7 linked regions of the Homo sapiens genome follow. Changing the gene in region 3 together with the main gene of any one other region gives a genetic interaction. Each region holds a gene or a part of one and is shown on either strand. Other genes may lie near its edges.

What was found.
Region 1: changes in STK11 (region 3) and PRKRA together harm fitness more than expected from each alone (negative genetic interaction), as found in Homo sapiens cells (one large-scale study listed by BioGRID).
Region 2: changes in STK11 (region 3) and CSNK1A1 together harm fitness more than expected from each alone (negative genetic interaction), as found in Homo sapiens cells (one large-scale study listed by BioGRID).
Region 4: changes in STK11 (region 3) and MPV17 together harm fitness more than expected from each alone (negative genetic interaction), as found in Homo sapiens cells (one large-scale study listed by BioGRID).
Region 5: changes in STK11 (region 3) and GTPBP2 together harm fitness more than expected from each alone (negative genetic interaction), as found in Homo sapiens cells (one large-scale study listed by BioGRID).
Region 6: changes in STK11 (region 3) and PDS5A together harm fitness more than expected from each alone (negative genetic interaction), as found in Homo sapiens cells (one large-scale study listed by BioGRID).
Region 7: changes in STK11 (region 3) and FBXO42 together harm fitness more than expected from each alone (negative genetic interaction), as found in Homo sapiens cells (one large-scale study listed by BioGRID).

The regions. Positions count from the first base shown.
Region 1 is NC_000002.12:178,441,176-178,444,675, forward strand, and holds part of PRKRA (interferon-inducible double-stranded RNA-dependent protein kinase activator A), read right to left. Parts: intron 3,326-3,500; coding exon 3,247-3,325; intron 2,210-3,246; coding exon 2,092-2,209; intron 530-2,091; coding exon 435-529; intron 1-434. UniProt on the Homo sapiens protein: Activates EIF2AK2/PKR in the absence of double-stranded RNA (dsRNA), leading to phosphorylation of EIF2S1/EFI2-alpha and inhibition of translation and induction of apoptosis.
Region 2 is NC_000005.10:149,499,440-149,502,939, forward strand, and holds part of CSNK1A1 (casein kinase I isoform alpha), read right to left. Parts: intron 1-3,500.
Region 3 is NC_000019.10:1,208,778-1,212,277, reverse strand, and holds part of STK11 (serine/threonine-protein kinase STK11), read right to left. Parts: intron 1-3,500. UniProt on the Homo sapiens protein: Tumor suppressor serine/threonine-protein kinase that controls the activity of AMP-activated protein kinase (AMPK) family members, thereby playing a role in various processes such as cell metabolism, cell polarity, apoptosis and DNA damage response.
Region 4 is NC_000002.12:27,316,598-27,320,097, reverse strand, and holds part of MPV17 (mitochondrial inner membrane protein Mpv17), read left to right. Parts: intron 1-2,924; exon of another isoform or gene 2,925-2,998; coding exon of another isoform or gene 2,999-3,020; intron 3,021-3,500. UniProt on the Homo sapiens protein: Non-selective channel that modulates the membrane potential under normal conditions and oxidative stress, and is involved in mitochondrial homeostasis.
Region 5 is NC_000006.12:43,623,130-43,626,264, reverse strand, and holds part of GTPBP2 (GTP-binding protein 2), read left to right. Parts: coding exon 1-39; intron 40-400; coding exon 401-509; intron 510-704; coding exon 705-902; intron 903-1,202; coding exon 1,203-1,377; intron 1,378-1,535; coding exon 1,536-1,755; intron 1,756-2,196; coding exon 2,197-2,332; intron 2,333-2,469; coding exon 2,470-2,528; intron 2,529-3,135.
Region 6 is NC_000004.12:39,866,412-39,869,911, forward strand, and holds part of PDS5A (sister chromatid cohesion protein PDS5 homolog A), read right to left. Parts: intron 3,052-3,500; coding exon 2,983-3,051; intron 587-2,982; coding exon 450-586; intron 1-449. UniProt on the Homo sapiens protein: Probable regulator of sister chromatid cohesion in mitosis which may stabilize cohesin complex association with chromatin. May couple sister chromatid cohesion during mitosis to DNA replication.
Region 7 is NC_000001.11:16,254,981-16,258,480, reverse strand, and holds part of FBXO42 (F-box only protein 42), read left to right. Parts: intron 1-1,721; coding exon 1,722-1,875; intron 1,876-2,659; coding exon 2,660-2,770; intron 2,771-3,500. UniProt on the Homo sapiens protein: Substrate-recognition component of some SCF (SKP1-CUL1-F-box protein)-type E3 ubiquitin ligase complex. Specifically recognizes p53/TP53, promoting its ubiquitination and degradation.

The sequences.
Region 1 (3,500 bases), on a different chromosome or scaffold from region 3:
TTCCTTCCTTTCAGTAGTCTATAAACTCCTTAGAGGCAGGGACTGCTTATTCACTGCACCCCAGTACCCAACACAACACTTAGCACACAGTATGAGCTCACTAAATGTTTGCTAAGTGAATGAATGAACAAACAAAGGGATGGAAATGCGCTGTCACTTTGAAGGCAAAAATGGCACTACTGGCCTATCATCTTTAGATCCCGTCCTATTATTCTGAATTTGACTGTGTCTCCCAAGCTCTCTTACCTAATTGCCTCTGTGATCCTGACTCACAAACAGGAAGCAGCTAAAAATGGGGTAGGGTATAACTGAATAATGAAGAGATTTCTAAAAATCACAACTCTGAAGTAGCTATAGAATAAGAAATCAAGGAAAGTTTCCTACTGCAAGAAATGCTTAATGACATTAACATCATAGCTGTCAACATTACTCACTAAAGAAATGTGGTTCTCTGGAGAAATATTACTAAATTTGGCAAGAAATTTCTCAGCAGCATTCCTTTTGGCTTGCTTTTTTGATGCCCCCTTTCCTGAACAAAGAAAAAGAAATGGTAGATTTAGAAAAGAAATTAGTGTCCACAGAGGATGATCAAACGTATGAAGTACTGTGTTTAATCAGAGAACCTCACGGTTTTTATTATATACTAGACTATGTTCTTACTGACCTGATAACTTTGTTTGTTATGCTATTTTGTTTGTATAGCTATTAATTCTTTTTTTTTTTTTTTTTGAGACGGACCCTCACTTTGTCACCAGGCTGGAGTGCAGTGGCACCATCTTGGCTCACTGCAACCTCCGCCTCCTGGGTTCAAGCAATTCTCCTGCTTCAGCCTCCCAAGTAGATGGGATTACAGGTGCCCACCACCACACCTGGCTGATTTTTTGTATTTAGTACAGACAGGGTTTTGCCATGTTGGCCAGGCTGGTCTCAAACTCCTTACCTCATATGATCGGCCCACCTCAGCCTCCCAAAGGGCTGGGATTATCAGTGTGAGCCACTGTGCCAGGCCTGTATAGTTACTAATTCTTACACTTTTGAAGACATTTGTTTTAAGTTTTTCTTTAATAGTTATGCTTTCTGTTTTTCTATAATAATTGTATTTTCCTATGTCTAGCATTACTGAACCATATTTGGTTTAATTCTGACCAATTATTTAGATTTATTAAAATACATCTGAATTATAACTCCTCTCTCTCAATGTCTATTTCCTGCTTATGATCTTCTCTAAACTGACGATTATATGAAATTCCTTTTAACAGGAATAAGAAAGGCACAGGGGATGGTGGAGTTGAAAGATACCATAAATATCTACCTCCATGCTTTTGTTTTATAGATTAAAAAACTGAGGTCCAGAGAAATTAAGTAATTTGCTTAACTTCGCGAATCAAGGACTGCATCAAGGACGGAAGCTGAGGTTCCTGCTTTTGGCCTGGTGCTTTCTGTACTGGCCACACTACCTCCCAAAGGCAAATAGTTTCTTATTACTTGAAACTATTATCTAGCTAAGCTAAAATCCCATTTTAAGCCACTTTTGAAAATAACAAAAACATGCCAGAGAAGTTAACAGGAATTCTCGCTAGTACTTTTTAAAGTGACAGCGTTTCTTATAGTTTATATCCTTTATAACATAGAAGTTGCTATAATTAAGAAAGATAATTTTCATTTTTATCTCACTGCAATTATTTGCCATGTAGTCTCTTATTAATCATATAATTTTCAAGTGTAATCTTCCTCTAGTCCTATTTTCTAGATAGAATAGCTGTTAAAATCCAAGAGATTTACTATAGCTTTTTCTCCAAATTGAGGTTTTTTAAGTCAGTAATTTATCAATGAAGACTGTTTAAAGTACAGAGCCAACAGTTTGTCTTTCTATTAATAATCTATGATTTTTAAAAATATCAAATTAAGAAGACTAAGTATCTTAAGCCAAATATTTATACTTAAGTTCAACCTCAGAAAGTCAGAGACAATAAAAGAGGAGTGTATCAATTTTTCTGCATAGAAATATTTGAAAACATTACGACAGAAATTTCGATAGTCATTCATCATCTGAAAATATTTCAAATGCCTTTAATTGTAAGAAATAAGTACCAGTTTCCATAAATGACTCTAGCCTGCAAATTGTAGTATATTCTCTCTTATGAGCAGGTCCTCCCTCCTGGGAAAGGGTATATTCAGGAAGTCTCCAGCCATGATGAATAGCCAATTCCTATAAAATCAAGATGAGGCTTTAATAGTAATTTTATGCAATGGCTCAATCACATAAGTGTTTTCTTAATTTTGATCCCATTTCTATGTATATGTTTGAAAAGAATAGTGATATTCTGCAACAGAAAAAAGAGGGAAGACCCTCTATTTCTCAAAGACATTCCCGCATTTTATATTTTTATACCCCAATACCAAAACTGAAGCAGTTTTGTGCTACGAATGGTGTTCTTGCATTAAACCACAGTGAGCTGGTATCAGACATCAACTAGAAAAACAGGCTACTACCGCCCTCTTTGGCAACACCAGAGGAGACCATCTACAGGTTTCACTGCCATCAGTTCCTAAAGTCCCTCCCCTCCTAGCTATAGACTTCCAAACCCACAGCTGGCCAAGAACACATGAGGAGTAGGGACAGCAAACAACAGACTTGCATAAAGTGGGGGACAGAAGGTGAAGAAAACTATAGAAAAGCTCACTGTGCAGGAAAAGGAGACCAAAGGACTGGCTGAATAATGGGGAGGGAAATGGCCTAACAGAGCACATGGATAATCTGCAAGAAGGATATTCTGCATATAGAAATTCAAAGCTGAATATATGTGTGTGTGTTTGTGTGTGTATAGATAAAATTTTTTTTTTTTGGTAGAATAAGCAAATAGACTCCTTTTCTTCAGTTAGGTTCACTGATTTGATTTAGGCTCTCTATAAAGTCTTCTGTCTCAACAGAAGTAGAAAGAGATTTGTCACAAGAGTAGCAAGAACTATTCTTAAAGTATAAAACACTTTACCCATGTGCACTGAGGGCCTGTTGATCTTAAATGAGAATTCTATAAGCCAAAGGCAAATACTGTATATGAAAGAAAACCCAGAACATAAATAGGAAAATAATTTCAAGTTAGCTCTGTTAATCTAATGATCGTAAGTTGGAAAACAAAATATATCACTATCTTGTCTTTAAAATATTAATTCCTTGTGTTAGCCCCTCTGACATTACAAACTTATTATATATTTCATCAGTAGGCAAAGAACTGTACAACTTACCTGTAATGAACCAATAGGATTAAGCTGGTTCTTTGGTTGCTTGGAAGGGTCAGGCATTAAGGGGTCAGGAACTGCAAAGCTAAATATTTTTTAAAAGTGTTATAAAACAAAATAATTTCCCCCGAATTATGAAATAAATGACAAGCATTTTCTAATTAACTCTCTATGTCTTTGCTCTTGTCATTCCTTCTACATGGAATGCCCTTTTCTCAGACCTCTTCTATGGGAATCTGATCGGTCATCCAAGATATATC
Region 2 (3,500 bases), on a different chromosome or scaffold from region 3:
CTGCCCGCCACCCAATCTGAAATCTAAAATGTATGCTCTGGCCCAGACGAGGTGGCTCACATCTATAATGCTAACACTTTGGGAGGCTGAGGCAGGAAGATCACTTAAAGCCAGGAGTTCCAAATAAACCTGGGCAACATAGTGAGACTTTGTCTATTAAAAAAATAAACAAAAGATATGCTTTTTTTTTTTTGAGATGGGGTCTTGCTGTTATGTTGCCCAGGCTGGACTTAAAACTCCTGGGCTCAGGAGATCCTACCACCTCAGCCTCCCCACAAAGTGTGTATCTGTTCTTATTCGTAAATTAATTTCAACAGTTTTCGACTTTTTAAATAGAACCAGAAACTAGTTCAAAGGGATATTTACGTAGCAGTAAGGCTTGTAAGTTTGTGATGGGCTTTTGATATTTAGGATCCCTTCAAGCTACAAGACAACTTTTTAAAAGTTATTTTGAATATATTAATTATGCTATGTCATTTATACTAACTTTTCCTATAACATGGTTGTGGGGTTTTTTTTCTTTTTTTCTTTTTTTTTTTTTTTTTTTGAGACGGAGTCTCGCTCTGTCACCCAGGCTGGAGTACAATGGCGCGATCTCCGCCCACTACAAGCTCCGTCTCCTGGGTTCACGCCATTCTCCTGCCTCAGCCTCTCAAGTAGCTGGGACTACAGGCACCCGCCACTACGCCCAGCTAATTTTTTTTTTTTTTTTTTTTGAGATGGAGTCTTGCTCTGTCGCCCAGGCTGGAGTGCAGTGGCGCGATCTTGGCTCACTGCAAGCTCCGCCTCCTGGGTTCACGCCATTCTCCTGCCTCAGCCTCCCAAGTAGCTGGGACTATAGGCGCCCGCCACCACGCCCGGCTAATTTTTTGTATTTTTAGTACAGACGGGGTTTCACCATGTTAGCCAAGATGGTCTGGATATCCTGACCTTGTGATCCGCCCGCCTCGGCCTCCCAAACTGCTGGGATTACAGGCATGAGCCACCGCGCCCGGCCCCAGCTACTTTTTTGTATTTTTAGTAAAGACAGGGTTTCACTGTGTCAGCCAGGATGGTCTCAATCTCCTGACCTCACGATCTGCCCGCCTCAGCCTCCCAAAGTGCTGGGATTACAGAAGCGAGCCACCGCACCCGGCCTTTTTTTTTCTTTTCTTTTTAAAATTATTTAAAATAGCGATGAGGTCTCCCTATGTTGTCCGGATGGTTCTCAAAATCCTGAGATCAAGTGATCTTCCCATCTAGCCTCAAAAATGCTGGGATTATAGGAGTGAGCCACAGTGCCTGGCTGCTTGTGTGGTTCTGTTTGTTGCACAGAATTAAGCTTGGAGAATTTTAAATCAGATTGGCAGTATCTAAAGTTAAAGAATAATTAAAAAAAAAAAACCTGTAATAACTCTTCCTTCCCTATAGAAACTAAAAGAGTATTTAAAGTTGGGAAAGATAAATGACAATTTTAAGTATAGGAGGTATACACTATTCCTAAACTGCATTAAAAAACAGACTGAATTGTTTTGTCTTCCTTATAACAGAATTCATTCTGCTACACATTTCTGACGTTCTGGAGTTTTAAAATACCTGTTTATAATTGATTCTTTCCCCAGCTGGTAGATGGTCTGCATTCAACACCACTGAGTCATAGCAACGCTGTATTCTTCTAGGTCTTCTAACAGTTGTGCTATCATCCAGATGATCTAACAAGTTGCAGAATTTGAAGGTCCAGCAGTCTTGGAGACATGGACTCCAGATGACCACAAACCAACTCTTGCACTTTCATCCGCATTTCCTGTTGGGTTATTTAGATCTTTCCAGCTTTACTGTCCACAGTAAAAAAAAAAGCTGACAAAAATTCAAGATTTCAGCAAGAAGATGCGGTTCCCTGGTACTTCTTAGAATTGAGTGTATTCAGAGCAGTGTGTTCAGACTGTCCAGGTATTTCAAAATCTTCCCCTGTGATGTGGGTGTGCTGCTGAGTGACCAGCACATTCCTAGCAGCAATTGGTGAACTCAGAAAAAGTCAAACTAGACATAAACGGTAGATGCAGCCCAGTAAAACTGGAAGGTAATTCAAGGAAGACTGTGGACATGGTAGGTCAATATGATAGAAAAATAATATTTGTAATCCCCTCTGAATGTCAATACTTTGAGAGCTGTCTATATTATTATGATAAAACTCTGCTTAGTAACTATGGTTAGGGTAGTAAACAGATGGGTTAAGATGATGAGAGTACAGAATAGTAGAATTATCCAAGAATCCACCTTTGGGTTCACTACCTTCTGAAATTCTCCCCCACCTCTGCCTGCCCTCAATTAAAGAAACACTGAACTTCATTAGATTTTGAATGTCCTAAAAATATTTCATTTTCCTTTACTTATTTTTAATATCTTGAAAAATACTTTTTTGATAATCACATATAGTCAAAGGGAGTGAAATAAATTTCGAAGTGTGTTGGGTGTGAATCTTATGTATTTTTCTTGGGAACATGAATAAAAACAGTAATTATAATCTTGTAGTAATTGAACATTAAAAACTAGTATAGATAATAAGTGGCATAAAGAGAAGTCTTTTGATGGATATTGGAATGGAGTATTTGAAAAGATCTAAAGAATATAAGGAAGGCAGAAGTCTGCCTATTATTTAATAGGCCCACATTAGCTAGATAAGCCAGACTTAAAGAATCTTTAAACATTCTTATTAAGTTATTAAAACAACACCATTTTTACTGAAGAAATATCAGATATATTTTTCAAAAATTACCATATAAAACATTAGTAAATGCTACCATTTTGGGGATTTTCCTACATTAGAGATTTACTTGCTTAAAATACACTTATGAAACTTAGTTCAATAATACTAAATCCTCTGAAAATTTAACTCTGTGAAGAGTAATATAAAAAGCACCTTCTAAAAATTCCTTGTTGTGACACAGGGTCTCATCTGTTGCCCAGGCTGGAGTGCAGTGGCATGATCACAGCTCTCATTGCAGCCTCAACCTCCAGGGCTCAGGTGATACTCCCACCTCAGCCTCCCAACACAGCTGGGATCACAGGCACTCACTACTGCGCCTGGCGCTTTTTTTTTTTGGGGGGGGGGGGGTTGGGGACGATGTTGGAGGGAGCTGGGACAGGGTCTTACTATGTGGCCCAGGCAAGTCTAGAACTCCTAGGGTCAAGCAATTCTCCCACCTCAGCCTCCCAAATGTGTTGGAATAACAGGCATGAGCCACTGCGCCTGTCCTAAAGTTTTTAACAAGAAAACCCCAGTAGGATGTTTTCATCATTATTAAAACGATTTATTATTGGGATCAATGAATCATTGAGCTGTATGAGTTCCTTTTTTTTTTTTTTTTGAGACAGAGTCTCACTCTGTCACCCAGGCTGGAGTGCAGCGGCACAATCTTGGCTCACTGCAACCTCCACCTCCCAGGTTCAAGCAATTCTCCTGCCTCAGCCTCCCAAATAGCTGGGACCATAGGTGCACGCCACCACACCTGGCTAATTTT
Region 3 (3,500 bases):
AAAAGGTGTTAAGAAAATTGAGTCCAGTTTGAGCAATACGGTGGCGTTTGTGGGATATACGGGCCGTCCAGCCGCCTCACTGATTCCCCGACAGCTACAGCAGCGCCCCAGATCCTGAGAGAGGAACCAACATTCCAGGCCTGCCCCAGCTGGCTGGGCACCGGAAGCCCACTGTGTGCACAGCCCAGAACCCCCAGTGGACCCATTACCCCCGCTGTTCTGCGGCTGCCCAGCCCCTGAGCTCCCTCTGGGTCTCAGAGCTCTCCCTCCCGCTGCCCAGAGAGGGGCACAAACAGAGGCCTCGAGGACACCCAGGCCTCACATGGCTGGCGCAGGGGCCTCAGCAGATGCTGGAACCCCATAAAGGCCGCCTGGGATGTAAAGACCTACAAAGTCCAGGACTGACTCCCAGCTCGCGAAAATCCTCTTTACCATAGGTCCAAGCATCTGCCAATCATCGCCGCAACCAGGCACACTGAGTGCCGCCCACCTCCCACCTCCTGGCTGGACACCGCGGGGGCGGTGCGGATGGGAGAGCCACAGCCCGGATCTGGGCCCGTTTCCTACGGCAGCAGTGATTTTCACATTTCCAAACAGGTAGAAAGAAAAGATACGAAAGCACAGTGTTTTGCAACAGGTGGAAGTGACAGGAAAGGGCAGGGCCGTGGGACACCGCCAGGCTGTGCGCTCACGGCAGCCCTGGGTGCCTCTGCGGAGGCTCCACAAGGCGGGCAGACTCCCTGCCTTCGAGCCCACTCTCACTGGGGTGGAAAGGGGGAGGGAGGCATGGCGGCCTTCTGCCTGCACCCCCCCCCCCAGAACCCCACTGTGGGCTCCGCAGCAGCAGCTAGCCGTGCTGTCCCCCGAGAAGCACGGGGAGTCGGGCTGGGCACAGGCGACCCTTTCCAGCCCTTCCCTGCTCCACCCTAGGAACCCACTGCCTACCAGAAACAGCCTATGGCACTGATTTTATTTTAATTAATTGTTTTTTTGAGACACAATTTCGCTCTTCTCTCCTAGGCTTGCCCAGCCTGGAATGCAATGATGCGATCTCGGCTCACCGCAACCTCCGCCTCCCAGGTTCAAGCGATTCTCCTTGCTTCAGCTTCCCCAGTAGCTGGACTACAGGCGCGCGCCACCACGCCTGGCTAATTTTTGTATTTGTAGTAGAGACGGAGTTTCGCCATATTGGCCAGGCTGGTCTTGAACTCCTGACCTCAGATGAAGTAGCTGGGATTATTGGCATGTGCCACCACACCTGGCTAGTTTTTCTATTTTTAGTAGAGAGAGGGTTTCACCATGTTGGCCACGCTGGTCTCAAACTTCTGACCTTGTGATCAAACCGCCTCGGCCTCCCAAAGTGCTGGGATTACAGGCGTGAGCCACCACGCCCGGCCCCAGCCCTTTTTTTTTTCGAGACGGAGTTTCACTCTTGTTACCCAGGCTGGAGTGCAATGGCATGGTCTTGGCTCACCGCAACCTCTGCTTCCCGGGTTCAAGTGATTCTCCTGCCTCAGCCTCCAGAGTAGCTGGGATTACAGGCGTGCGCCACCACACTCAGCTAATTTTGTATTTTTAGTAGAGACAGGGTTTCACCATGTTGGTCAGGCTAACTCCCAACCTCGGGTGATCCACCCGCCTTGGCCTCCCAAAGTGCTGGGATTACAGGCATGACCGAACATGCCCAGCCCTCTTTTTAACTCATTGATGCTTTTTGGAACTTTCCTATTTCTAATAAGATTATACTTTTTGCCGGTGAGAGCGGGACAAGGCATGGACTCCAGGGCTGCCTTTCTGGGAAGGAAGGGAAGAGACGGGACTCACGCCGGCTCCATCTGCCCCAACCCACCCCCCTTGGTGATCGCCCACGCTTTCCACACCAACTGGAGGACCGGACGCCTGAGGCTTGTCTGGAAGGTTCCAGACACTCGCTGCGAGACACAATCTGAGCGGAGTTTATTAAACTTCCCACACACAAAGGAGGCTTTTTCCCTGCAGCGCTGGCAGCAAGGCTGGCCAAGGCCTTGGGCCTCAGGGCTGGGCAGTGGACACCCCTTCTCCTTGACAGCACTCTGCACATGGCAGCCTCCAGTCAGAACACACCAGCTCCCAGAATAGGAGGACCCCCTGGCAGCACCCAGGGGGCTGGAGGAAATGCAGTGGCTCCTGAATCACAGCTGTAAGCGGGGCAGCTCCTGATGGCAGACAGTGACCAGGAAGGGACAGGGCTCACCCCTCATCCCAGGGGGCCCCGCAAGGGCAAAGCCGTTACACACTCAGGGCCAGGATGAAATTGGACGCTGAACACTAGTGAGGGTGCATCACTCACTTCAAGGCAGTGGGGTCAAGCTGTGGGTAGCTGCGACGCACAGTCCAGTCCAGGTCCTGCCAACCCCTCTGCCTCCCTGCCTCCGTGTTCCCTCCCGTTCTCCCAGGCACTGGGCCAGACTAGGTTCCTGCAACCTTCTTGCCTGTCTCCACCAAGACCCTCAGGCTCTGCCCTACCGTTCAGGTGCTCACCTGAGCTCCCAGGACCTCCTCCACTGACTGTTCAGGAAAGCAGGGGGCTCACTCTCACAGTCAGGCTTCCACCCTCCAGCGTCTGTCTTCCCATTGACCCTGCATATACATTTGTCAAAACTCAAGCCAGATTTATTTATTTATTTATTTATTTATTTATTTATTTATTTATTTTTGAGACAGAGTCTCGCTGTGTCGCCCAGGCTGGAGCGCAATGGTGCGATCTCGGGTCACCGCAAGCTCCGCCTCCCAGGCTCCAGCAATGTTCTGCCTCAGCCTCCCGAGTAGCTGGGATTACAGGCACACGCCACCACACTCGGCTAACTTTTGTATTTTTAGTAGAGATGGGGTTTCACCATGTTGGCCAGGCTGGTCTCGAACTCCTGACCTCAGGCGATCCACCCACCTCAGCCTCCCAAAGTGCTGGGATTACAGGCGTGAGCCACCGCGCCCGGCCCCTAAGCGTGGGTTTCTCACTGCTGGGAGAGAGACTGTCACTGGCCCCTTTAGAGGGCACCTGCTACCCCCAGCACAGGCTCTGCCTAGCCCCTGACCAACCCATCTCACAGAGACCAGGCACAGGCTCTGCCTAGCCCCTGACCAACCCATCTCACAGAGACCAGGCACAGGCAACTGCTCCACTGACTCAAGGCACTGGCCACACCTTCTACCCGGGTCCAGACTGGGCACTGAGACATCAGAAAGGCCTCGTGGAAACACACCCTTCCCAGCCGCTCCCATTTAACCCTGACTGCTCCAGCTCCAGAGTACAAACTTCAGAGCCTGTGCCCCTGGTTTCCGCATGTCACAGCCTGCATGCTGATTAAGAAGCGTGCTGGCCGGGCGCGGTGGCTCACGCCTTTAATCCCAGCACTTTGGGAGGCTGAGGCAGGTGGATCACGAGGTCAGAAGTTCAAGACCAACCTGGCCAAGATGGTGAAACCCCGTCTCTACTAAAAAAAAAAAAAAAAAATTAGCTG
Region 4 (3,500 bases), on a different chromosome or scaffold from region 3:
GCCCAGCTAATTTTTTCTATTTTTAGTAGAGACGGGATTTCACCATGTTGGCCAGGCTGGTCTCGGACACTTGACCTCGTGATTCACCCGCCTCGGCCTCCTAAAGTGCTGGGGTTACAGGTGTGAGCCACTGAGCTCAGCCTTTTTTTCTTTTTCTTTTTTTTTTTTTTTTGAGATAAGGTGTCACCCTGTTACCCAGGCTGGAGAGTGGTGGTGCTATATCAGCTCACTGCAACCTCCGCCTCCTGGGTTCAAGCAATTATCATGCGTCAGCCTCCTGAGTAGCTGGGACTACAAGTGCACAGCACCACACCAGGCTACTTTTTTGTATTTTTAGTAGAGATGGGCTTTCTCCATGTTGGCCAGGCTAGTCTTGAACTCCTGACCTCAAGTGATCCGCCCACCTCAGCCTCCCAGAGTACTAGGATTACAGGTGTGATCCAGTAGGCCCCACCTGGAAATGTTTTTAAATGCTCAGTGAACTTAAAGACTCAACAGGTTGGTTCTTTCTATGAGTGTTGGCAACACAGGCACAATAAACTATTTTATTATTATTATTATTTGAGACGGGGTCTTGCTCTTTTGCCCAGGCTGGAGTGCAGTGGCATGATCCCATCCTGAACTGTGACTATGCCACTGCACTCCAGCCTGGGCAACAGAGGATCCTCTGCCTTAGCCTCCCGAGTGGTTGGGACCGCGGGCTTGCACCACCATGCCCAGCTAATTTCTTTTGTTTTTTGGTAGAGATGGGGTTTTGCCATATTGCCCAAGCTTTATTCTTTTTATAGTGGCGTTTGGGTTAGGTTTGTTCCACTTGCCATAATCTGAACATGGATCACTATCTTAGCCTTGGGTTCCGGAAAGCAGAGCCTGAAGCTTATGTGCAGATACCTTGTTAGGTAGTAGGGAGTGATCCCATGGAGGGAAAGAGGGAGAGCCACTCTAAGGATGCATTATTGAATTAGCCACTGCTAAGGGCAGCTGTTGCTCAGTCCCTTGGAACTGAGAAACTTTTTGAAATACTCCTTAAAGTGTCTGGGCGTGGTGGCTCATGCCTGTAATCCCAGCACTTTGGGAGGCTGAGGTGGGCGGATCACCTGAGGTCGGAAGTTTGAGACCAGCCTGGCCAACATGGTGAAACCCCGTCTCCACTAGAAATACAAAAATTAGCTGGGCATGGTGGCGGGTGCCTGTAATCCCAGCTACTCGGGAGACTGAGGCAGGAAAATTGCTTGAGCCTGGGAGGCGGAGGTTGCAGTGAGCTGAGATTGCGCTACAGCACTCCAGCCTGGGCGACAGAGCGAGACTCCATCTCCAAAAAAAAAGAAAAGAAAAGAAAAGAAATACTCTTTAGGACTGTCTGGATGAATAGCTATTTTCTAGAGAAAAGAAGAAACCTTTATCTGCCACTCCCATCCCACAATGGTCAAAGATTCCAAAGACTTACCCCAGGCTGGGTATGGTGGCTCACCAGCACTTTGGGAGGCCGAGGCAGGCAGATCACTTGAGGTAAGGAGTTCGAGACCAGCCTGGCCAACATGGTGAAGTCCCGTCTCTACTAAAAATACAAAAATTAGCCGGGCATGGTGGCGCATGCCTGTAATCCCAGCTACTCAGGAGGCTGAGGCAGGAGAATTGCTTGAACCCAGGAAGTAGAGGTTGCAATGAACCAAGATCCTGCCACTGCACTCCAGCCTGGACGACAGAGCGAGACTCCATCTGAAAAAAAAAAGGCCGGGCGCAGTGCTCACGCCTGTAATCCCTGCGCTTTGGGAGGCTGAGGTGGGTGGATAACCTGAGGTCAGGAGTTCGAGACCAGCTGACCAACAAGGTGAAACCCCATCTCTGCTAAAAATACAAAATTAGCTGGGTGTGGTGGCAGGTGCCTGTAGTCCCAGCTACTTGGGAGGCGGAGACAGGAGAATTGCTTGAACCTGTGAGGCAGAGGTTGCAGTGAGCTGAGATTGTGCCACTGCACTCCAGCCTGGGTGACAAAGCAAGACTCTGTCTCAAAAAAAAAAAAAAAAAGAAAAGAAAGATTGACCTCATGGGATAACTCCGCTCCGCTACTAGTTCACACATGCATAGTCACTGCAGCCATCAATAGCAAAGGCCCAGGTGTGGCACAGGCCTGAAGCAAGAATCTATCCAGTAGAACTGCAGTAATGGCTGGAGTAAGAGATAGTGAATCAAGAACATTTGAAATGATTCAAAAGAAATGTCTAGTATACCAGTTTTGGCCAAGCCAGAGTCCAGAACAAGGTAGCCTGGGGAAAGGTTTACTGTATGTTCTATGGAGTGTGAGTCAGCCTTATCCCTTCCTTCTTTGAGGGCCCTTCCACTCTCCAGTGGGCCCAGGGCCGAGCTTCATCCATCTTAGTCTACTCGGTCCTGCTGTGGGAGCAGCTGAGCTCTTACAAATACTGGTTTCCCTGGAGTCTGAATTAAGCCAGGGTATGAGAGCTCAATAGGCCTTACATACAATCCTGTCCAGCCCAGGAGACTGCAGAGAAGGAAACTGAGGCAGGAGTGGGAGTGTCATGCACTGAGGTCTCAGATAGTCAGTGGCTGAGCTGGCGTTATAACCTAGGGCACTGCCCACCATACTGCCTTGCACTTGAGACTACTGGAGCCTCCAGATGCTGAGTGCAACCCCAGCTGATCTGAGCTTAGATACGTAACAAGCTGCAAAACTACCCGTTTTGTCTCATTTTCTAGCAGTAGGATGGGTTCAGGTCAGAAATGGGAGAGCATTCAGAATAATCCCAGAGGATCCACTCCCCTCCCGCTGCTGGGCTTCCACTCCCTCTGGGCTCTGTGCCAGACTGAGCCCCTATCCTAGGCAGCTAACTAATGTTTGCAGACTTCTGGGGAGGAAGGCAGCACTGCTGGCCCCATGCCAGTAGCTATACCTGCCGACCCAGGCCTCCTGGACTGAAGGACACGCTTCCTGCTCCTCACTCCAAGAAGCCACTTCTTGCCCCTCTGCCTTCTGCGCATGAAACTCAAAAGCCACAAAAGTAAGTAGAGGAACAAAATAGGAGAAGTAGGGAATTTACCCTGCCCATGCCCGGGAAGAGGGTGTGGAAGTTGGGGCTTTTCCACTAGTGGGCAGGAAGTGGTCCCAAATTGATCTGCTCAGAGGCAGGCTCCCTTCCCCCTGGCCGCTGGATCTGTTCGGGAGTGACGGCATGAGAACTGGCACCTACCCAGGGGCATGATGTCACACCTGCGCCAGCATCTGCTCGCTGGGCTCCACGCCCAGCCTGTCATTGGGCATCACTGCCCAGCAGCCCCTAGCCCTGCCCCATCAGGCCTCTGGCCATTATGTGTCTGCAGGCCTCCAGTCCCAACTCCCTAGAAACAAGTCCAAGGGGAGGGGGCCCAGAGCACTGGAGAGTCCAGACCAACCAAATATATCCAGGAGATCTCCCAGAGGCTGGGGTGGTTTGGGTCTATTTGGGCTCTGGGTTGGGAAATGTGGGATGAGGAATCTGAAT
Region 5 (3,135 bases), on a different chromosome or scaffold from region 3:
GCGAGCTTCGCTCAAGACCCTGCACCGGATGGCAGAGAAGTATGCTTCCCCTTCCCCACCAGTTCTCCTTTACCTGACTTGGGGGGACCCATGCATACCCAGTTACCTAGGGCCTGAGGGGCCAAGGTGGGACTTTCCTTCTCTTGACAAAGGGCTGAAGTGGGGAGGGTTAGTGTTTTGGTCCCCTCCTCACTGGACCTAGGCTGTTTTGCTCCTTGAATTAAGATATGTATATTTGTTTTAAAGGGAACTGTGAATGAGGAATAGATTGGAGGGTGGTAGGAAGTGCACTAAGGTATTGGGAGCTCTGTGGGAGGTGCAGGAAGTCTGTAGGTCCAGAGCGAGCCTGGAATAGGAGAAGGACAGGTGAGATATGGCAGCTGTGGCCTTGCTGTGACAGGGTTGGGGCAGACATAACCGTTCTTCGAGAGCGAGAAGTGGATTATGATAGCGACATGCCCCGGAAGATCACCGAGGTGCTAGTACGAAAGGTCCCTGACAACCAACAGGTGAGCACACACCCATCCCTGTCTCTCATGTCCACACTGTGGAAGGGCCCTGTGGTGGCAGGCTGTCTCCTGGCCTGGGATCCTGGGGGCTTCCAGTTCATCACTTGCTCCCTAGGGAGCGTCACTGCCCTTGACCCAGTCTTCAGTTAGAGGGGTGAGAGATTGGAGTTCTTATCTCTGGCAATTCATCCACAGTTCCTAGACCTCCGTGTGGCCGTCCTGGGGAATGTGGACTCTGGGAAGTCAACTCTGCTTGGAGTCCTGACCCAGGGAGAGCTGGACAATGGGCGGGGCCGGGCTCGGCTCAACCTTTTCCGCCACCTGCATGAGATTCAGTCTGGCCGAACCTCCAGCATCAGCTTCGAGATCCTGGGCTTTAACAGCAAGGGAGAGGTGCATGGGATCAATGGGACCCAATGGGGCCAGACTCTGAGGATGGGATGGTAGTAGTGAAGGACATAGGATGGGGGTAGAGTGTGGAGACTTTTTGAAATAGTATAGATGAATGCCCTGAGGGGACTGTGAACAAGCTCTGCCCCTCTTAGGAAATCAATGGGGAATCAACTAAATTAAATAAAAAATGGGGTCAAGATTAAGAGGCAGGGTCACCCAGGGAATGGTTTAGGTCCTGGCAACTCTGAAGGGGTTGGAAGGGCTGGCAGGAGGCACTGAGGGCCCTGGGCCCTGGGCCAGGTGGTGAATTACAGCGACTCACGGACAGCAGAAGAGATCTGTGAGAGCAGCTCCAAGATGATCACCTTCATCGACCTGGCAGGCCACCATAAGTACCTACACACCACCATCTTTGGCCTCACATCATACTGCCCCGACTGCGCCCTGCTCCTCGTCAGTGCCAACACTGGGATTGGTACGAGGCATTAGGGCAGGGACAGGGCTGAAGGGGGGTGCTGACTCTCCTACCCTGGGCCTCAAATCTTGGAGACAGACCAATGCTCCTCTTCTTCCCTCTCCTCCCTCCTGCATTCTCACTCTTCTCTCCTGCTGCTTGCTGTCCTTATGAGGCAGCTGGCACCACAAGGGAACATCTGGGGCTGGCCCTGGCCCTGAAAGTGCCCTTCTTCATCGTGGTCAGCAAGATCGACCTATGTGCCAAGACCACAGTGGAGAGGACAGTACGCCAGCTGGAGCGGGTCCTCAAGCAGCCTGGCTGCCACAAGGTCCCCATGCTGGTCACCTCTGAGGATGATGCCGTCACTGCTGCCCAGCAGTTTGCTCAGTCACCCAAGTAAGCCCACCTTACTCTAAAGCCCTGATCCACTAGGAAGGCTGCCACAGAGCCCAGGGCCCAGAAGCATGATATCCTACTTCTCCAGGGCCAGACCAGTTCTGGCTTAGTTCTGCGGGTGTTTCAGCTTGGGATTGTGGAGGGGCATCTTGCTAAAGGGCTTGACCCTCCTCCCGAGCCAACCTGGAGCACTGCTGATGCCTGGGACCATGGCGATGAAGTGCTATACCAGGCATTTGCTGTTTCCCTTGGGCTCGGATGGGCTTTTTGTGTGACATTGCTCGACTGGCTCACAAGAAGGCCCAGAGTTCCTGAGCCATTTGCAGACAGGAGAGAGGGGCCCCCAGCCAGAACAAAGCTCACCTTTCCATGTATGGGGCTCTGGCCTCTGCCTCCTGTTTGGACTGTCTTCATCTGTCCATTCCATGCCTCCCTCTACAGTGTCACCCCCATCTTCACATTGTCCAGTGTGTCTGGAGAGAGTCTGGACCTCCTCAAAGTCTTTCTGAATATTCTGCCGCCACTCACCAACAGCAAAGAGCAGGAGGAACTCATGCAGCAGCTGACGGAGTTCCAGGTAGTTGACTGCCCAAACATCTAATAGGCTGGGAAACAGGGAGGGGCTGCTTCAGACCAAACCCAGAGTCTGTTTAGAGATTTTGGACCCACCAGCCCTACTTGGCAGGCCATTGATAGCGTTTTCTTTGGCTTCAGGTGGATGAAATCTACACAGTACCAGAGGTGGGGACTGTTGTTGGAGGAACACTTTCCAGGTAAATTGTCTTGCTTGCTACCCTCCCCACTCAGCCCTCACCTATATACTCAAAGACATCCTGGCCCAAAGGAGGAGACCCTGGAATTGAACGGAACCCATTTAAAGGACATGCTTATTTGCAGATTAGGCTTTCACTATCAGAAGAGCTGGAGAACGGTAGTCTGTTGGCTTTGGAGGGAAGAAACAGTATTGCTGCCTATTGGGGAATCTCCAGGCCCCTGAGAGAGAAGTGTGGGTCTTGAGCTCCAGGAAGAAAACTAGAGTGTATTCAACTGACTTCATCTCACACAGGGAAATGAGAGACGTCACTTAAGACTCTTCTTTCTTTCTTTCTTTCTTTTTTTTGAGACAGAGTCTCGCTCTGTTGCCCAGGCTGGATTGCAGTGGAGCGATCTTGGCTCACTGCAACCTCTGCCTCCTGGGTTCCAGCAATTCTCCTGCCTCAGCCTTGAGTAGCTGGAATTACAGGCGCCTACCACCATGCCCGGCTAATTTTTGTATTTTTAGTAGAGATGGGGTCGTCACCATATTGGCCAGGCTGGTCTTGAATTCCTGACCTCAAGTGATCCACCTGCCTCAGCCTCCCCAAGTGCTAGGATTACAGG
Region 6 (3,500 bases), on a different chromosome or scaffold from region 3:
TGGCTGCCACTTAAATTTTTATTACTTTCATGGGACTCAAGTCACTCCACTTATTTAATCGCTTTAATACAGGGATGCTCTTTGAAGGCAGGGACTTTTCCTACTTATTTTTGCTGCAATGCTTTTCACAGTGTTTTATGAAGTAGAAGTTTAACAAATACTTGTTTAATTGAACCAAATGTTGATGCTAACTGTAATAGTACAATATAGTGATTATGATTATGTATTTACTGGAAAAAGTTCCTCTTCTTTAGGAATGAAGAAAAATATATTGGCACTATTAAAATAACAATACTGACAGACAGACAAACCCTAAATGAGTACATAAGATCTGACCCTGAAGATCATGGTGTAATTACACCATTCAGTATTCATTAGGTAAATAATTCCTATGTAAATTCCACCAAAATTTCAGCACTAAGAAAACTGGAAAGAAAGAAAAATCTCACCTGATCCTCTTTTGCTCTGTCAGGTCACCCTCACTAACCAACATCGCTGATAATAACCGAAGGGTTGAATTGGCAGATTTAGACTGGTTGTTTTTCATACCCAACAGCCACCTTACCAGAAGTTTAATTGCCTGTACCTATAAAATATTAACATGCTAAAAAAAGAAAGCAACTTAAAATTCCAATTAAAGGGAAAATTAATTTAATTAGATTAATGAGATTACTCATCTCCATCAGCAGACATTTTATTAAATAAGTCTATGGGATAATAACAGCAACAATACGAACTAATATTTACTCTGTGCTTAACCAGTGCCAGGCACTTTTCTTAGATCTGTAAATGTATTAACTTATTTAATCTCCCAAAAAATTCTTATGAGGAAGATTTTTTTTTTTCCAACAGATAAGGCAATTGAGACACATTATTATCATAGATAACTTGCTTAAAAGTCTGGTTCCAGAATTTAGGCTTCTCATACTTAGATGTTTGTGCAAGATTTTGAAACTATTTGAAAACATATACTTTAAAAACAACAATTTAAACTATACAGGCCGGGGGTGGTGACTCACGCCTGTAATCCCAGCACTTTGGGAGGCCAAGGCAGGTGGATCACTTGAGGTCAGGCGTTTGAGACCAGCCTAGCCAACATGGTGAAACCGTGTCTATACTAAAAAACCCCGTCTCTACTAAAAAAAAAAAAAAAAAAAAATTAGTCAGGCATGGTGGCACACGCCTGTAGTCCCAGCTACTCAGGAGGCTGAGGCATGAGAATTGCTTGAACCCGGGAGGCAGAGGTTGCAGTGAGCTGAGATTGTGCCACTGCACTCCAGCCTGGGTGACAGAGCAAAACTCTGTTTCATAAAAAAACCAAAACACACACACACACACACACACACACACACACACACACACACCCCACAACTGTACTGATTGTGGTGACTGAAAATAACTTGAGAGTTTCAGTTTTGTGGTATTGAAAAACTACTTTGAAGAAACCATCAAGTCTGATTCAGTCTCATTTAACATTGTGACCAAAAAAATGGGATTTTGTGTAATTATTGGTAGTCATAATTACTTAGAAATGTCTAGTCAAAAGATTGTTACCAATATATGTGAAAAAGCTAGCCAAAAAATCAAAGTATTATTTATTATATTTATTGACAACCTGGAAAAATGAACTGATAGAATATATGATGACTACAAAGCAACACAAAGTGAAAGATTATCAAAGAAGATGATACAATCTTATTTTAAATCCCAAATCTGCCACTTTTCAACTGAGCTTTACATCTATTAAATGTCACAAATTTAGTAACAATCATCTCTATCTGCTCTGTCACCCAGGCTGGAGTGTACTGGCATGATCACAACTCACTGTAGCCTTGACCTCCTGGGCTCAAGCGATCCTCCTGCCTCAGCTTTCTGAGTAGGTGGAACTATAGGTATGCACCACCACACCCGGCCAAATTATCATTATTATTATTTGAGACCGAGTTTCACTCTGTTGCCCAAGCTGGAGGGCGGTGGCGGGACCTTGGCTCACTGCAACCTCTACCTCCCAGGTTCAAGTGACTGTCCTGCCTCAGCCTCCGAAGTAGCTGGGATTACAGATGTGCAACACCATGCCTAGCTAGTTTTTGTATTTTTAGTAGACAAGGGGTTTCACCATGTTGTCCAGACTGGTCTTGAACTCCTGACCCCAAGTGATCTGCCTGCCTCAGCCTCCCAAAGTGCTGGGATTATAGGCGTGAGCCACCATGCCTAGCCCAACTAAATTATTTTTAATATTTTGTAGAGACATGGCTCACTATGCTGCCCAGGTTGGTCTTGAACTCTTGGGCTCAAGCGATCCTCCTGCTCTGCCTCCCAAAGTGCTGGGATAATAGGTGTGAAAAACAAATCAAAGTATTATTTATTATATTTATTGACAACCAGGAAAAATGAATTGATAGAATATATGATGATGATGAAGCAACACAAAGTGAAACAGATTATCAAAGAAGATGATACAATCTTATTTTAAATCCCAAATCTGCCACAGTGCCCAGCTTGACAATTACCTATCTTTGCCAAGTTAATATTCATATGCTTGTAGATAGTGGTGATGAGGCTGGATTTAAGATGCCTCTGAGCACCGTCATTCTATAAACAGTCTCTCTATAAAACAGCCTCATTAAGATTGCTTTAGCAGGCAGAAGACACTGACATGTAATAAACAATGACAACCACAATGTCTTCAATAAACCATTTTTTGCAATGGATTTTAAAATAAAGTACCTCCTTAACAAATGCTTATTAACTATTAGGTTTAATTAAAAAAGGCTCCCAGCTAGGCACGATGGCTTAAGCTCATAATCCCAGCACTTTGGGAGGCTGAAGTGGGAGGATCAGCTGAGCCCAGGAGTTCAAGACCAAACTGAGCAACACAGCAAGATCCCATCTCTGTTTATTAAATTTTTTAAAGGTGAGGAAGATAACTACAAAATGTCCCTTTTTTAAACATGAAGATTATCAAGGCCTAAACAAATTTACCTTTGCTAGTACTTCAGGGGAAACCTCTTCATCTGGAGACCACAGTTTTCCATTCTTTTCACCTGTTGACTATAGACAATTGAATAAATTTAGCTATTAGCATGAAAAAAAAAATTTATGTTTTTGCTGATTAAGTTTTTCATGTTGATCAACACAGCCTCTGAGAAACCTACGGGAACATCACCAACCAGAGCTTGGAAAAGGACAAAGTTAGAAGACTCATACTTCCCAATTTTGAAACTTACTATAAAACCTACAGTAATCAAGACAGTGTGGCTGGTACTGGCAAGGATAGACATATAGACTAATGGAATAGAGAACTCAGAAAACCCTTGCATATATGGTAATTCATTTTTGACAAAGGATGCCAAGACCATCTTTAGTGAAAGAACAGTCTCTTCAACAAATGGTGCTAGAAAAACTGGATATTCAGCCGGGTGCAGAGGGTCAAGCCTGTAATCCCAGCACTATGGGGGGATGAGGCAGGTGGATCACTTGAGGTCAGGAGTTTGAGACCA
Region 7 (3,500 bases), on a different chromosome or scaffold from region 3:
GGAGGTTAAAGTGGGAGGATCCCTTGAGCCCAGGAGGTTGAGGCTGCAGTGAGCCGTAATTGTGCCACTGCACTCCAGCCTGGGCAACAGCAAGACCCTGTCTCAAAAAAAAAAAAAGGAAGAAGAAATGAAAAATAGCTGATGCCACATGGTGTTCTTAGATGCTCACCCTGTACTCTTCAGGACTGATGCCTTCTCAGTAAATCGTATTGTTCCCCTAAGTGAGATCACAAGAAAGACAGTCCTCTGCTCTACCTTCTCAACCTTGAGACTTTGTAAGTGACACCATTAAAGCAGTCTGAGCAGGGCTTTTCAAACAGTGTTCTGTAATGTGCTACTGAAAGAGGAAGCAAAGCTCTCCACCTAGATTGGAGCATCTCGACTGCTGTCAGGTTAATGTAGTGTTGGGATTTCTTCTGCTTAAGATATCCTTTGAAAAATGAGTCCTGCAGCTTTAACCAAAAAGAAAAAAAAAAGATTTTAAAAAAAAAAGTATTCTCAGCGAGGCATGGTGGCTCACGCCTGTAATCCCAGCACTTTGGGAGGCCAAAGCGGGTAGATCACCTGAGGTCAGGAGTTTGAGACCAGCCTGGCCAACATGGTGAAACCCCATCTCAACTAAAAATGCAACAATTAGCTGGGCATGATGGCAGATGCCTGTAATCCCAGCTACTCAGGAGGCTAAGGCAGGAAAATCACTTGAACCCAGGAGGTGGAGGTTGCAGTGAGCCGAGATTGCATCATTGCACTCCAGCCTGGGTGACAAAGCGAGACTCCACCTCCAAAGGAAAAAAAAAGTATTCTGGTATTTACTGACACCTGGATATTGGGACAAGTTACTTTGGTCTTGAGGAAACTAAAGGTGACATGTAGAGTGAGGGATGGGGAAAAATAGCAATTGTTATTTCAAAGACAATAGATTTTGAAAAATTATGCTCCTGTAAGACATTTGTTATCTCTAAAGTTTTCCAGCATAAGCCAAAGTGTTTTTTTTCAGAATTTGGTCAGTGTAGCCCAGAGGTCCAGTCTAGATGGTGTTTGGTGTAAGACTTATGGTTTCACTGGAATTCCTTCACACCAATCCTTGAAGGTCTGCCCCATTTGTGCTAGGCTGAGGCTATCTGGTTATGTGAAGCCCATAGCTAGGGGCCTGGAGGTCCCTATGTTAAAATTTGACTCACGGGACAAATAAGAACTGCCTCCTGCCTCCTTTTCTTACCTGTGTTTTGTAACGAGTTATTTTTAAGTTGCATCCAGACATCCAGCCTCTATGTATACTTCTCCCTGGTCCTCTACATTCTTTCTTTTCTTTGTGACCTCTGTTAAGTTTGTTAAAGGGATGGGAAGGGGTGCTCATTTGTTGAGCACTTTCTATGTGCCAGGCATTATGTTAGGTGCTTTGAATATACTATTTAATACTCAAAACAGCCTTATGAGATAGGTACTCTCATCCCTAATTTTAGGTGAGCAAATTATAAACATGAGAGAGGCTAAGTAACTTTTCTCTAACTCATATTTCTCTGTTAATAATAAAAGACGTGTGAATTAGTGATGATTTTCTCTCAGACTCAAACCCAGTTTTCTTTCCACCTTTCCTCTACACTTTGTAGTATTAGTTCCCCTTTTGTTGCTCTTCCAGGGAAAGGTGATCTATGGATAGCCTAACTACGGATTGTTGTGAGATCCTGAATGCTAACCATGGTGTTACTGACTTTCCCTAGGGTCCTATCCTTCCCCCAAAGCTGGAGCAACTCTGGTCGTGTACAAGGACTTGCTAGTGCTGTTTGGTGGCTGGACGCGGCCAAGCCCTTATCCCCTACACCAGCCAGAGAGATTCTTTGATGAAATACACACTTACTCACCCTCTAAAAATTGGTAAGTCACAAAGATAAACTCTTTAAATCTGGAAGAAAAGGCCTTAAATCAGTGGATTCTTTGTTTTTTTGTGTCAAGAGTCCCTTTGAGAATTAGATGGAAAGCTGTGGACTCTTTTCCCAGGAGGGGAAAAATGCACATATTCACAGATTTTACCAACAGTTTCAGAGAGTTTACAGGACTCTCTTAGAACCCTGCATTTAGAATCCTTATTCTAAAGAGAAAAAATAGAAGAGATTTATTCCTCTTTCAAGAAAAATGAATGAGCCAGTTGAAGAACAGCGAGCTCTTCAGCTTTGGCTGCTAACACTCCAGGAGTGTTGTAGATCCAGATGATTCCTTACTCCTAACTGTGTCTCCAAGACTTACTCTGAATTGTTTTTCAAACATATATCTCTTAATGACAGCAACCGCCGTTTCTTGTAATGGAAGACTTAGTACGTGGCGCTTGTTAGCTGTTACTGATCAGGACCATAGGGAAAGGTAGCAGGTGGCAGGTGGTGCTTTGTCAGCAAACCAGGCCAAAGAAGCCATGATCTTGTCTCTTGTCATCGTTTTCTCATCTCTCTCCCTCCAGACCGTTTACATTCAGAACTTGAAAGAAGATAACTTTAAGCAAACTTGTAGGAAAGGCATAAATACATTATGCCATCCTCTACTTATTATCCCAACAAATCTCTGCTGAAAGTGATAGGATTATCATTTTAAATGGATGCCTACTTACTATTTTTACATAAAGTGTGTGGTGCTGACTTCTTGACTTCCTCCTGTCTTTTTACATTAGGTGGAACTGCATTGTGACAACCCATGGGCCACCTCCCATGGCTGGCCACTCCTCCTGTGTGATAGATGATAAAATGATTGTCTTTGGTGGCTCTTTAGGATCCCGGCAAATGTAAGTACATTTGGTTTGCTCCATATGAGCCTGAAGGTAAATACTCCTGGGAATAACAGGTTTAAAAGTGAATTAGGGACCAGGTGCCTAATTCACACCTGTAATCCCAGCATTTTGGGAGGCCAAGGTGGGTGGATCACCTGAGGTCAGGAGTTTGTGACCAGCATGGCGAACATGGCGAAGCCCCATCTCTACTAAAAATACAAAAATTAGCCGGGCATGGTGGCACACACCTGTAGTCCCAGTTACTTGGGAGACTAAGGCAGGAGAATCGCTTGAACCTGGGAAGTGGCGATTGCAGTGAGCCAAGATCACCCCATTGCATTCCAGCCTGGGCAACAGATCGAGACTCTTAAGGAAAAAAAAAAAAAAAGTAAGTTAGGGTCAGTATTCCTGAGCATGGCTCTAATTAATCCAATTAGTTATCTCATCCTAGCATTCTGTTCTTTAATCCCTTAATCACAGACCAATAAATTGAAAAATTTGCTCTATAAAATCATAGTTATATAGAATCTCTTTGACATATGGTTCTATTCAGTAGGATCAAATTCTGATGGAACCTCCACCTTGCCTGCTGTGCTGTGCCTGCAGAAGGCCAACTTTCGAGAACAGAATGCTTTTACTTATTCTACTTTATTACCCAGCTCTTGCCCTTTTGGGCTTTAGAGGAGAAGAGGGGGAGATTGACAGGACAAGTGGAAATGGTGGGCCCTCCAAATGTGATAGGTTG